Homo sapiens: one gene and its partners. The protein of the gene in region 3 interacts with the protein of the main gene of each other region in a biochemical or structural test. Each region holds a gene or a part of one and is shown on either strand. Other genes may lie near its edges.

Evidence for each region. The genes of interacting proteins can lie anywhere in the genome.
Region 1: the proteins of FN1 (region 3) and THBS1 form a complex in vitro, tested with the Homo sapiens proteins (one study listed by BioGRID).
Region 2: the proteins of FN1 (region 3) and LACRT form a complex in vitro, tested with the Homo sapiens proteins (one study listed by BioGRID).
Region 4: the proteins of FN1 (region 3) and TSHR form a complex in vitro, tested with the Homo sapiens proteins (one study listed by BioGRID).

The regions. Positions count from the first base shown.
Region 1 is NC_000015.10:39,587,524-39,591,129, reverse strand, and holds part of THBS1 (thrombospondin-1 precursor), read right to left. Parts: intron 3,089-3,606; coding exon 2,912-3,088; intron 2,605-2,911; coding exon 2,431-2,604; intron 2,172-2,430; coding exon 2,044-2,171; intron 1,929-2,043; coding exon 1,776-1,928; intron 1,326-1,775; coding exon 1,107-1,325; intron 615-1,106; coding exon 507-614; intron 1-506. UniProt on the Homo sapiens protein: Adhesive glycoprotein that mediates cell-to-cell and cell-to-matrix interactions.
Region 2 is NC_000012.12:54,632,045-54,636,229, reverse strand, and holds the start of LACRT (extracellular glycoprotein lacritin precursor), read left to right. Parts: upstream 1-1,334; 5' UTR 1,335-1,388; coding exon 1,389-1,446; intron 1,447-2,996; coding exon 2,997-3,050; intron 3,051-3,848; coding exon 3,849-3,989; intron 3,990-4,185. UniProt on the Homo sapiens protein: Modulates secretion by lacrimal acinar cells.
Region 3 is NC_000002.12:215,360,317-215,363,126, reverse strand, and holds the end of FN1 (fibronectin isoform 1 precursor), read left to right. Parts: exon of another isoform or gene 1-474; coding exon of another isoform or gene 475-481; intron 482-1,047; coding exon 1,048-1,158; intron 1,159-1,500; coding exon 1,501-1,572; 3' UTR 1,573-2,262; downstream 2,263-2,810. Other genes in the region: bifunctional purine biosynthesis protein ATIC, read right to left, coding at 475-481. UniProt on the Homo sapiens protein: Fibronectins bind cell surfaces and various compounds including collagen, fibrin, heparin, DNA, and actin. Fibronectins are involved in cell adhesion, cell motility, opsonization, wound healing, and maintenance of cell shape.
Region 4 is NC_000014.9:81,084,566-81,088,171, reverse strand, and holds part of TSHR (thyrotropin receptor isoform 1 precursor), read right to left. Parts: exon of another isoform or gene 257-3,606; coding exon of another isoform or gene 219-256; coding exon 144-218; exon of another isoform or gene 1-143. UniProt on the Homo sapiens protein: Receptor for the thyroid-stimulating hormone (TSH) or thyrotropin. Also acts as a receptor for the heterodimeric glycoprotein hormone (GPHA2:GPHB5) or thyrostimulin. The activity of this receptor is mediated by G proteins which activate adenylate cyclase.

The DNA.
Region 1 (3,606 bases), on a different chromosome or scaffold from region 3:
ACCATGTGCATAATATGTCTAAAACTGTGAAAATCAGCAATACTTTCTACCTAGTGGATAGGCTAATTGATCACTCAGTGTAAAACGATCACTACAAAAGTTAAAAGGACATAGTTAAAAAAATGGATCCCTGTGGGTTAGAAGTTAGTGAGATGTAGAATATAATCCCATCATCTCAGTTCATAGTGTGCCCAAAGTCAATTTTACTGTAATTTCGATGTGACATTTGAAATGAATCTAGGGAACAAAGTGGCATTTGTTTATGCATTATAATTTCTCAAGTACAGAGAAAAACAGTTCTGATGAAAAACAAAACCCTCATTTAAAAATTCTCTTGGCAACATCTACATCCTTAAACTACTGGAACACAATGAATAATTTCTAATTATCCTGTGTATTGATTTGGTATATTTTTTGCTATAGCCATGTAATTTCCTTGAATCCCAAAGTGTTTCAGGCTGTTGCTGAACTGAAAAGATGAAAAAGGGATAGAAAACTGTTTTTACCCTGTCATCTGGAATTTTATCATTGTCATCGTCATCATCACAGGCATCACCAATTCCATCCTTGTCATAGTCTTCCTGCCCTGAGTTGGGAAGGTTGGGGCAATTATCCTAGGAAAGAGAAGATATATATCACTGCTTCAGTTGCCTTCCTCATGCTGAGCTCATGCACGAGGGAGTGTACCTGGAATTCCAAATAGAAAAAGAACAGAATTTGGCTCAGTAACAGCATATTTTTTTTATGGGAAGACAAGAAAATAAAACTTTTCTTGGGGGATATACATACAGAATTTGTGTAAATGCTCTAGGCTTTATAGATGTTGTGAACACAAGTCATGCTTTGCTGGTATTTGGATAGAGTACTGAACTTTTTTTTGGACAGAAGAGTTGACTATGGAACACAGTTGCCCAAAAAGAGCTAGCCCTGTTCATGTTTTTGGCACCAAGTGATTTAATTTTAATAGGAATTAGTGCCCCTCTCCCTTTGGGAGATTTAATCTTTCAGTTTCATGTCCAAACTTTAAGTATTTAAAATTCCTTAGCCTGTGTTTTGATAAGGTGATGGGCCCTCTTTCTGGAGGCACACAAAGGACCTGGCTCTACCTTTTTGCAGTGGTAAGTCGCATTGGCCACGCACACCAGGTTCTCATTGGGCCAGCCATCCAGGTCTGTGTCCTCCCCGCAGATGATGCCATTGCCAGCGTAGCCAGGCTTGCACTCGCAGCGGTACATGGGGTCGCTATAGTGGCCCAGGTAGTTGCACTTGGCGTTCTTGTTGCAGTCGTGGGTCCCATCCGTGCAGGGGTTACGGGGCTTGCACACCTGAGGGTACACCATGCTGCTGTTACACAGAGCTTTTGAGAATCCTCAGATATCATGGAAACAAGAATCCAGATCCCTGTCATCTCTGAGTAGACAGAGGCTCCATTTGGAAGAGTGTGGGTTACCTCTGTCCCTCCCCATTCTCCCTGAGGCTATAAGCAAACTTTGCTTTATGTTTATTTTTCTTGAATTTGCTCAGCACCTAGGCGTTTACAAGTCCATCTGCTCACAACTTATTCCAGAGCAGCATTTTTAAATATGGAAGACTGTTTTTCCCCTGCAGGATTTACCATGGATTTTCTAATCACGTTTCTAAAACTAGACCGTACATTCATCTCCTCGCCCTTTTTTTTTTGGTGAAGGGTATGAAATTACATTCCTCCCGCTCCCAGTTATTTTGGTCAAGGACAGCTCTCCTGTCCTCTGGTTTACTCGTCTAGTTGACTGTACCTGTTTGTTGGCCGTGGCATGTTCGACACCCTGGCCGAAGGGCTGTGAGCCGGTGAAGCGTGGGGGGCAGGGCAGGCAGTTGTAGCCGGGGTCCGTGTTCTCACACCGGTGCTCTCCATTGTGGTTGAAGCAGGCATCAGGCACTTCTTTGCACTATGGAGGAAATAAGAGCGTGCATCATGTTTAGAAGTCACTGCCATAAGGAAGCGACTGCACAGGTTAGCTGCTTTCCTAGATCCAGAAACTCGGAGCCCCATCAGTTCCTCACCTCATCAACATCTGTGCACTGGATGCCATTTCCACTGTAACCAGGGGGACAAGCACCACATTTCCAGCTGCCATCAGGGTAGCTAGTACACTTCACGCCGGCAAAGCAGGGATTGGACAGGCATCCATCTGAGACAAGGAGAGAGAGACAGTCACAGTAAATGGTTGGTCTAAGCTGCCATACTGCCATGCTGGGCACTTAACACAGTGTAAGATATTATAGGGTATAGGGAACCGATAACTTGTTGGGATTATGTTGTCCACCTGCATCTTAGAGCAATCAAATCGCTCAGGACTAACCAAGCTGGAATCTCCTCGAATGCTGACTGCAGCATTCAGTAAAAGAGCAAAGCTCCTGGGTCGTTTCATCCTGGGCTGCGTGGCTCACCAATTGGACAGTCCTGCTTGTTGCAGATCTGGTTTTCTGTTACATCACCAACGCAGTCCTTGCCTCCAAACTGGGGTGTGGGGTTGTTGCAGAGACGACTACGTTTCTGTACCCCTCCTCCACAGGTGACAGAACAGATGTCCCATGGTGACCAAGGACCCCAGCCTCCATTGACTGTAAGAAGATGAACCACAGGCAACAATTAAGATCAACTTTCAAATCCCTCCCTTGTCATAGACTCTCCTAAGCCCGTTCAAGAAACCTCTGCTTCTCTGACACATGGAAAGAATGCTGGGGAAGAGGGTGAGTTTGTTTTTCATTAAAAGAAGTTGCTGAGCCTGCAGGACTTTGCTTCTGTTTGTTTCTCTAGTAGGTAACCTTCCTGCTCTATGACCCACTGAACTGCAGGCTGCAGATGCCAGGCAACCAGCTGGGCAGAGCTGCTGCCCATGCTCACCCTTGCAGCGGACCTCACACTTACTGGGGCAGGCGTCTTTCTTGCAGGCTTTGGTCTCCCGCGCTTCGCCTTCACAGGGTTTCCCGTTCATCTGGGGGCTGGGAGAGTTGCAGAGCCGGATCCTTGTGATCACACCATCACCACATGTCACAGAACAAGATGACCACGGGGACCAGTGGCTCCAGCCACCATCCTGTTTAACTAAAGTACAGAGTTGATGGTCACAAATGGTTTTGGCTTAGAGACAGCCAAATAGAGGCTCCCATCAGGAGCACGCAGAAGTATTTCCAGGAAATGGTCAATGGCAACTAAACCCAGTGTACGGTAGAAATTGGCTCCTGGCCACATGCCCAAATGTCAACATGGAATGTTTTCTACCAGAGAACGGATAAGTTCGCTGTTTTTATGGGTTGCTGTTAATATCCTAACATTTACAGGGTGCTTACCATAAACCAAAACTCAGTGCTAACTGCTTTACATGCAGTATCTAAATAAAATGCTCAAGATAAACTTATCAAGAACTATTATTATCTCCAAGTTGCAAATGAGGAAAGAGCCTCAGAGAGGGTAAGTTGTGTTCAAGGGTGCACAGCTAAGCAGTGGGATTGGGATCCAGAGATCCTAGAACCCGTGTTCTTAATATACATGCTGTGGAGCTGCCCTTGGTGACGACAACAAGGACAGGTCAGTTCTCCACGTCCCTGAGAGGCTAAGATGCT
Region 2 (4,185 bases), on a different chromosome or scaffold from region 3:
TCTCCTGAAAAGATTAATGTTCTAAACCCTGGCACCCAAAACACCCTCATGTTGAAAACTCTTCAATACCCCCTTCTCACACTCATCTTCAGAGCTACCATGAGGCAGAGAAGCCTCCGGAATCAGCCCACATGGGGCTGGGTGAATGCCAACACCAAGCAAGGGGAAAGTCACAAATTGACATCCAGCACCTTATTCTCCACCCTTCAGCCCCTCAACTGACTCCTGCTCCACGGCCCGTTCTATTAATATCTAGCATTTAGCACCAGCCTGGACAAAAACCTACTTGGAAAGATGGTACAAGAACCCCACACAACTCCATAGAACTTCGCTGTCTAAAAAAATGCTTTGCCGTATATTATCCCACTTAATCTCCACCACTATGCTGTACATAGGAGCCACAACTCCTAGACAACAAATAAAAATCCTATCACTTTTCAAATCCTAACATTTTCATATGACAAAGCCAGAACTCAAAATCCAGACCTCTAGAGTCCCAGATCAGGAAAGGAAGAAACGCCAAGTCAAAGAGAAGCTTCTTTAGAATAATCTGCTTTTCTGGATTATTCACACCATGGGTCAGCTCCCCACTTGAAGTCAGAACCAAGCTCCAATTTCAGTGAACCACCATCATGCTTTGACCAGGAGATTCTCTCAGAAATGTGGGGTCCCATTGAGTAGGCCTGAAGACAGAGATTGACAGGCCTATGTGAGCCTGGAGGAGTTCTTTTTAGGGGCTGGATAATGTCAAGAACAGAGAACAACTCCAGAGAAGGCACACACGCCTTCAAACCCATCCCCTCATGGGGAGAAAGCAGCCAGGAACTCAGGCCTCAAGTGTTCTAGGTGTGGTCTCCCAAGGAAACGGGCTCACTTAGTTTGGGGAAACCTTCAAACCCTGCACTGAGTCCTATGTAGACTGGGACAGAAGGTGGACAATGTAATCCCCTGAGCCCTCAACCTCCTCCTGGAGAGATGACAAGATTAAGATTTCTCTACCAGAACCCTCAACAGACACATCCCAGAATCTCCCCAAGTGAAATGTGCTCTACCTACCGTCCCTGAGAGCCCAGGGGTGTGAACCCAGAGGGCAGGTGTGGTGGGGAAGGGAGGAGGGAGAAAGAAAAGGGATGGCTGGGAGTTAGAGAAAGGCTCCTATCCAGGACCTGCCTGCAAGGATCCCAGGTATCAGCCAGCCCAACCTAGCCCTTGTTGACTTAGCAGGTGACAGTTTGGGGAAGAAGGGGAGGAGGATGCGGAAGTCACACCTCTCCAGGCTTGGTTCCCATTGGCCCTTGATATCCTTAAAAGGGCCCAGCAATTTCAGCATCCTTATTCCCCAGACCTTCTGCAGATTCTGTGGTTATACTCACTCCTCATCCCAAAGAATGAAATTTACCACTCTCCTCTTCTTGGCAGCTGTAGCAGGGGCCCTGGTCTATGCTGGTGAGTATGGCCTTTCCTCTGCGCCCCACAAGAGTCCTCCCAGTCCAAGGAGCCCCTCACTCCTGCCTTCACCCCTCTCCTCCTCTCTCAGTGCTATTCTGGTTTCCCTGCCTCTGCAAGTGACTCCTCTCCCAGTTCTCCACACGTGGCCTCTGCACCCCACTGGCCAGAGGAACCCAGAACTCTCTGGCCTCTGCCTGCCCTCCCAGCTCATCTCCTCACACACCATTGTTTACCCACTATGCCTCAGCTACACTGGCTTCTCTGGTGTCCCCTGCATGTAGTTGAGCAGGGTGTCCCCTACACGAGGGTGCCCAGGCAAGGAGTGGTAGAAGCTAAAATCTGGCCGACACTCTACTTGCCAAGCAGTGAGCCTGGCCCCTGGCTGTGTCTCTTAGGAGGAAGGGATGCCTTTTTTTTTTTTTTTTTTTTGAGACCGAGTCTCCCTCTGTTGCCCAGGCTGGAGTGCAGTGGCACGATCTCTGCTCACTGCAACATCCACCTCCTGGGTTCCAGCGATTATCTTGCCTCAGCCTCCTGGGTAGCTGGGACTACAGGCTCATGCCACCTTGCCCAGCTAATTTTGTATTTTTAGTAGAGACGGTGTTTCACCATGTTGGCCAGGTTGGTCTCGAACTCCTGACCTCAGGTGATCCGACTGCCTTGGCCTCCCAAAGTGTTGGAATTACAGGCGTGAGCCACCGTGCCCTGCTGGGATGCCTTTTTTGATCCACAGAAGCACTATTTGGGCCATGATGATCCTGCTGTTCCTTGAACATCAGGATCTTCCTTCTTGTCCTTTCCTCGTCTAGAATGCTTTCCCTCTCCCTGGCCCCTTCCCCCAACCAACTCTAATGTCACCTGGCCAATGATTTTTCATCTAGAAAATCTCAGTTTACATATAATTCCCCAAAAAGGCCTTCCATGCACATGCGGAACAAATCAGATCCATGTGCCCTTCTCGCACCAGGCTGCACGTTCCCTTCCAGCACTGTCACACCAGCCATTAAATAATTTCGTAAAAGGACAGATGTAAGCTCTGTCAGGGCAGGGGTCTTGTCTGCCCTCTTCAGCACTGCACCTCCATCTCTTGGCACAGAGCTTTGCATAAATGTTGTGTTGAAAGAATAAAGGGAATCAAGGCTGGGGTCTCAATCCTGCAAATCGCTCAAATATGGCCCCATAACCCCCACATACTGTCCTCCTCCACCACAGAGGAGGTTGAGCCCCTCTGACCATGGCCAGCTCCATGACAGACACCTCAGGGAAGCCTACCAAGCCAGGGGCCAGTCAGGAGGAAGGCACTGTTCCAAGAGACATTACACTTCTCAGAGGGGAAGTTATTTCAAAAGCCACAGGAGTTAAACATCAGAGAGTGCCCCAGTAGACCCGCTGATATGGTGGAAGGGCATGTCCAACCCAAAGGGAAATTGATCCCCTTCTATCCATGAGCATTCCCAGGAGATAAGCTTTGGGAATGGGAGGGGAGGGTGGCTCGAGTAGGTCCGGTTCGGTCCTTGCTCTCATCTGGCATGTTTCCCCCATTGCAGAAGATGCCTCCTCTGACTCGACGGGTGCTGATCCTGCCCAGGAAGCTGGGACCTGTGAGTCCTCCTCTCCCTGCTGCCCTAGCCCTCGTTGGGAAGGTTTAACAGTTAGGGATGTGAGTGGTGGCTGGGAGAAGAAGCCAGTGGGAGGAGATCTGGATTCTGTGCTTGGTGGTAATGGGGAGGGGCAGGTAATATAATAAAGAAGGTGGCATGGGTTGAAATGGTACAAGGCTAAGGACAAAAGAGGATGACCCAGAGAGGCAAGGACAATAGGGAGCATGGGGAAAAGGTTATTGTGAATAAAAGGGAGAGAAACATGAGGTTAAGTGGTAAGGGCAATGTCTCACATGGCATTAATACCTTCACCTGCAAACACCTCCCATTACTCCCAATTCCTTAGCAAGATAACCATTATCTGGCCTCTAACCTCATTTTCCAACCCCATTTTCCATGACTCTCTTTTATGTCGCACCCACATCAGCTAAATTGAACTTGTTTCCATTCCCCACACATGCCTTCGCCTGACCTCTTACTCACTGCCTGCCCCCAGGGAAGCCCCTTTGGTACATCCTCTCCTGCTAACATCCTGCCTTCAAGATCCAGCTTCTCTATGAAGTGCTCCCCGATTCTCACCATCCCCTAGTCCAAATCCTTCCCCAACCCTGCCCGCTGCATTCCAAGAGACACACAGCATGCAGAAATGCTATCTCCCTTAAGGGGGCAGCGTTTAAGCCATATCACTTCTGTATCCTGGCACCCAGCACACATTAGGTATCCTGGGGCCCTGCAACCCATTCCAAAAGAAACAAACACTTTCACTTTGCTAAAATCCATCAATTTGTGCATTCACAGCTAAGCCTAATGAAGAGATCTCAGGTCCAGCAGAACCAGCTTCACCCCCAGAGACAACCACAACAGCCCAGGAGACTTCGGCGGCAGCAGTTCAGGGGACAGCCAAGGTCACCTCAAGCAGGCAGGAACTAAACCCCCTGAGTAAGTCTCTGTCTCTATGCCAGATCAACAACCTAGAAAAGTCTCTGGCTGCAGGCCCACATCACACCTCCACGCACAGAGATAAGCCTGGTGAGAAGCAGGTAGACTCAAACAGCTGAACACAAAGGCACAAATGGGATTGTGCATTGCACCCACACACAACGTTTTCACAATAGTAGATGTTGCAGCCTGCACA
Region 3 (2,810 bases):
AGGAGGTAGTCACTGGTATTGTGTTAGGTATTAAGGGGCATATGTGCTTAAACAGAGAAATATGTCTAAAATATTTAAATTCTAATATAAAAAAGAAAGTGACTGTATTATTTAGGGCTGCATTTTAGTTGTAAGAAAAAAGTCCAACTCAAGCAAAAATGGCCCACACAATGGAACAGTCCCAGGACCCACCGGCTTCAGGGGCTGCTCCAGCAATGGCGCCCGGACTCCCTCTTGCTCCGCGTGCCTTCCCATGCACTGGCTTCGTGCTTCAGCGGGGTCTCTGCTGATGGTGCCATTGATGACTGACCTCCATGAGCTTGCTTTACCCCCTGCCAGCTTAAGAACAGTAGTGAAAGAGAACATGTGTGTCCTCCCATTTCCAGTAAAAACTTCAGGCAGGAGCCTCACTGGCTCAGCTTGGTCCCGTTTCCATCTCCCATGCCATCTCCGGCCAGGTGACAGGCTACCATGTCACTGCCTAGGGAAGTTTAGGAAGAGAGTGGCAAAGTGGTGCATTAGAAAGAACATGGCCAGGTCACCCCACCTCCTGGGCGGCAGGCCCAACTCCACCAGTGGTCCACTGTGTGACTTCCCTGCTCCCTCTAAGCAAGTCACTCCTCTCCTCTGGGTCTCTGTTTCCTTACCTATAAAATGAGAACGTTTCTTCATGTGATCTCAAGTCCCTTTTAAAATCGCTAGGATTCTTTGAAAACCTTTTCTATCATCTAGTGCAGAGAACTTGTTGAGGAAGTTGGGATTGGAATGAGCCTCAGCAGATGGGCAAGGTTTGAATAGGAAGAGAAGAGACATTTCAGGAGAAAGAAACAACATAGAGAGACAGATGTAGGTATAAGATATGGTAATAAGCCAAAATGTATTAAGAGTTATAAATGCATGAAATCATCATCAAAGCTTGCTTAGTGATTAACTGCTTATATTTTGCCAGTGCATATGATGTGACATTTTTCTTTAACTCAAACACTAAATTACGATGTCCTCAGGTTATCATAAACCCCATTTGACTTCATGCCTCTACTCTCTCAGGGCTGGCGCTGTGACAACTGCCGCAGACCTGGGGGTGAACCCAGTCCCGAAGGCACTACTGGCCAGTCCTACAACCAGTATTCTCAGAGATACCATCAGAGAACAAACACTGTAAGTGCATTAGCAGCACAAGTGTGTTCCCTCATACTAGACAGTCTCTTTCTACAGGTATCTTTCTTCAGAATGAACCAAGTGTTTTAATTAATTAAAAAAAAAAACAACTCATAAATGACTTAAGTGAAACACTGTATTCCATAATATAGTTTAAGTTATAATTTATGTAACTCTTGAACATCTCCTATTGCCCAGTATGCTGCTAGGTTCTTGAAACTAGGAAGAAATATTATCCTATCTATAAGCAGCTGTCATGAGTCCCCACCTCCCCGCATTTTTTTTTCTGTACACTTTACAGTATTTGCCACTAATTTTTTTTTCCTTCTTCCTTTTTAACAGAATGTTAATTGCCCAATTGAGTGCTTCATGCCTTTAGATGTACAGGCTGACAGAGAAGATTCCCGAGAGTAAATCATCTTTCCAATCCAGAGGAACAAGCATGTCTCTCTGCCAAGATCCATCTAAACTGGAGTGATGTTAGCAGACCCAGCTTAGAGTTCTTCTTTCTTTCTTAAGCCCTTTGCTCTGGAGGAAGTTCTCCAGCTTCAGCTCAACTCACAGCTTCTCCAAGCATCACCCTGGGAGTTTCCTGAGGGTTTTCTCATAAATGAGGGCTGCACATTGCCTGTTCTGCTTCGAAGTATTCAATACCGCTCAGTATTTTAAATGAAGTGATTCTAAGATTTGGTTTGGGATCAATAGGAAAGCATATGCAGCCAACCAAGATGCAAATGTTTTGAAATGATATGACCAAAATTTTAAGTAGGAAAGTCACCCAAACACTTCTGCTTTCACTTAAGTGTCTGGCCCGCAATACTGTAGGAACAAGCATGATCTTGTTACTGTGATATTTTAAATATCCACAGTACTCACTTTTTCCAAATGATCCTAGTAATTGCCTAGAAATATCTTTCTCTTACCTGTTATTTATCAATTTTTCCCAGTATTTTTATACGGAAAAAATTGTATTGAAAACACTTAGTATGCAGTTGATAAGAGGAATTTGGTATAATTATGGTGGGTGATTATTTTTTATACTGTATGTGCCAAAGCTTTACTACTGTGGAAAGACAACTGTTTTAATAAAAGATTTACATTCCACAACTTGAAGTTCATCTATTTGATATAAGACACCTTCGGGGGAAATAATTCCTGTGAATATTCTTTTTCAATTCAGCAAACATTTGAAAATCTATGATGTGCAAGTCTAATTGTTGATTTCAGTACAAGATTTTCTAAATCAGTTGCTACAAAAACTGATTGGTTTTTGTCACTTCATCTCTTCACTAATGGAGATAGCTTTACACTTTCTGCTTTAATAGATTTAAGTGGACCCCAATATTTATTAAAATTGCTAGTTTACCGTTCAGAAGTATAATAGAAATAATCTTTAGTTGCTCTTTTCTAACCATTGTAATTCTTCCCTTCTTCCCTCCACCTTTCCTTCATTGAATAAACCTCTGTTCAAAGAGATTGCCTGCAAGGGAAATAAAAATGACTAAGATATTAAAAGTATTTGAATAGTATAATATGGAGGAGTTTTATCTTAGGGAAACCCCATGGTATGATAACCCCCATCTAACATGTCTTACTTTGGGTCAGCTGACACTTTTGGCATGGCTTGATAAACTCCCAGCTAAACAGTTTGT
Region 4 (3,606 bases), on a different chromosome or scaffold from region 3:
CCGATACCTTGCCCCCGACCCAGGCTATACACCATTAAAATGAACCTGGACCACATCATCTAGGGAGATTCCTGGGAGACAACAGCATTAAATCTGACCCCCTCCCCCCAGAAAAGTAGGATGGGAGAGGATTTAATACTTACAGGAACTTTAGGAGGGGGAGCTCTTTGAGGGCATCAGGGTCTATGTAAGTTAAGTTCCTGGTATTCCGAATTTCTCTGTATAAGTTACAAGGAACACAGTCACTATAATGCATCCGTATCTGTTCTTATCAAAGACAAAACAACATAAATCAGTTTTAACAAACGTTCATGAGAAAAATATGCATTTACGCCACAGGGTACCCCAGGGGCTGTAGCTGCCAGGGGTCCCATCAATGACAAACTACTCCTGTCTCCTCACGGGGACCCAATGGCTGCTCAGCTCTTTTGCATTGTTGGCTTGGTTTCTGTCCACTTTAATTTATGGGCTACATTGTTCTTAATTGTAGTATCAGAATTTTTTTTCTTTTACATTTAGAGAAAAAAGAAAAATCCCTCCAATGATTTGGTGAGGAGTTGAAGACAAATATCTTTATTATTTATAAGTATTCTGGCCAAGACAATGAGTGTTGGAGTGGGAGGATGAGGGAATTTTATGATGAACGACAGCACAGCAAGATGGACAGTAAGGCTCTGTCATTGCCATACCAGATGTACAGAAGTGGTAAGTCTTCACAGTTCACTTGGGTTTATTTTGTCATGTCAGCAATCGAAGACACTTCTGCATGTATAGTGCAATATCGTGTGTCAGTAACTTACATACTTAGGTTTATATAAATGCTGATCAAGAATGCACAGTTAGCATTAGAGAAATAAGTAACTGCTAGAAATGAACTCTCACTGGTTAAATTAAACATATTCAACATAGGTTGATTGGCTAAAAGAGTTTAAGGCATTCCCTATGCTTACATGAAAAGTATATAAGAACCCAGTAAACCTTTAGCATTTCTCCTTAGGAGTGGCACCTAAAAGAACCAGCATCTAGTCATTGGTGGTACCAGTCAGAAAGCTTAGAATGTGACCTCTGTAATTTTTAAAGTTTTATTGAAAAAGAATTTACATTCCATAAACTTCAAACATTGTATGTAGGCATACAGTTCAATGATTTTTAGTAACATTACATGATTTTGAAACCATCATCACAGGTTAGAACATTTCTGTCAATGACAAAAGTAACCATAGGCCCATCTGCAGTTAGTCTCCACTTGCTCCTTTATGCCTAGAAACCACTGATCAGTTTTCTTTCTTTATAAATTTGCCTTATCTGGACATTTCATATAAATGGAATCATATAACAGGCAGTCTTTTGTGTCTGCCTTCTTTCATTTAGCATAATGTCTGTGAGGTTCATCCATGTTGTAACATGAATTAGTAGTTCACTCCTTTTTATTTCTGAATAGCCCAGATGGACTCGAAATAGAGTCTTGGCTCTGCCACTTCTGATTATATGACCTTGGACAAGTTTCTTGGCCTCTTTGAGCCATAGTTTTCCTGTCTGTAAAATAGGAACAATTAACAACACCTCTTTTGTGGGGCTTTTGTGAGGATTAAATAATATTCATGAGGGATTTTATGTTTGGCCTCCACATAGTTAGGGCTCTAAAATAATGCTTTTATTATTGTTATTTTCATAAGTGCAATGAAAGCTAGAAGAGACATCAGGGACTTGGGACTGGAGATGTTGTGACATTCTTGCAAAATTAGAAAAAACTCTCTGGTTTTTTCAACTAGGCATTTCAACTAAGGACACTGAATATGAAACAGACCTTGGAAAAGAGAGGATGGAGTTAACTCTGAGAACAGAAATCACCTACCTCTCTCCTCCCTAAACACACAGCTTACTGTCTATAATAATATACCCTTACTGGTCCATTGTCCTCATTAACATAACTACAATTCCAGGAGACTCTTGCCCAGGCAAATTGCTTTATTGTTCATTACAGAGAGTTTTTGAAACAAAGAACCATCAATGCTTCAACAGAAAGCATCAACAGTTTATACCCCAAGATCTTAGAACTCCTCACTTCCAAATCCTCACTATGCTAATCCTAAACTATTATGTCATGATTTTTACCTAAACAAGACCCTGCATGGAAAGATCCTCTTTATACAATCTTTCATTTTTTTGTCCTGGCTTTAAAATGCAAAGCCCATATCCTTGGAATTCCCTCTGTCTTGGGCAAAGTGTGACAGTTGGCCACCCTACTCCAAAATCTCATAATTTTCCCACCTTGCCCCTCTAGAGACTATCAATCTCTGTTGAGGTGGTTCTCTCTTTCCAGGGTGAGCAATAAACTCCTTGCCAGAGCTTTCCATTGGGGGAGGAGGGTTTGAACTACTGCCAGAGACAAACAGATGTAAACTAGATGCAGGAGTTTGGAAATTGAGCAGGGTTTGCAGTCTGGAAAATTGCTCCACAAGAGACTGTCGTTGAACGAGTAGTCCTGAGTGAGTGGTCTAAGAGAACGTCAGAGTGAAAGAAAATGCAGCCCACCTGGGTCAGCTGAAAAGGTAGAGAATAAAAGGGAAATGAAATGCAGCTGCTAGTAACAGTTGATTAAATGAGGCTGGCAACTTACATGGAGGCTGGAAGAGGAGAAATGTGGGAGAGGCAGCAAGGAGAGAGAAGGAAACATGAAGGAGGAGAAGATTTCTAGAAGGAAATGTAAGAGCTACAAAGGAGAAAGATGAATGAGAGACCCCACAAGAAAACAGCAGGGAAAAGAAGCTGCTTTCTGAGGTAAGGCAACAGCTTACCACTTGCTCACAAGTGACTTTTGAAAAGTATCTCCTGAAGCAGAGAAGGGGTGGAGTGGTCGTAGACTGCCAGTAGTTTAGCTAAATGGTGAGAGATAACAGCTGGGTGTGGTGGCGCATGCCTGTAAGCACTTTGGGAGGCCGAGACAGGTGGGAGGCCGAGGCAGGTGGATCAGTTGAGGTCAGGAGTTCAAGACCAGCCTGGGCAACGTGGTGAAACCCTGTTTTTACTAAAAATGCAAAAATTAGCCGGGTGTGGTGGCTTATGTCTGTAATTCCAGCTATTTGGGAGGCCAAGACATGAGAATCGCTTGAACGCAGGAGGCAGAGGTTGCAGTGAGCTGAGATTGTGCCACTGCACTCCATCCTGGGCGAAAAAGCAAGACTCTGTCTCAATCAATCAATCAATCATTAAATAGAGAGGTAACATAAGAAGCAAATGCAACTAGTAAAACCTATTCAAAGATAGGAAGAAAGGAAGGGCAGAAGTGAGTACAAAAGAACATCTAATCAGAGAAGGGTGAAAGAGGCGTTCAAATTTGAATGCCTTCAAGCATGCCTCTGAGGGTGAATTTGAATCACACCATTTTGAGTTAAGCAATTATGGCCTGAGTGTGCAGGAGGCTAGCTATGCTGCCAGAAAGCTGGAGACATTGGAAGAAAGAAAAGCTGTTTGTAATACAGCACACTAGGAATGGAGATGCCCTCCAGAGCTGAAGATGGCTGTGCCTCCAGCAACCTGAGGCCCTGAGTGACTGCCTGAAGGTGGCTGCTCTGTGCTCCCACTCATCCATCCAGTACTCTCCCA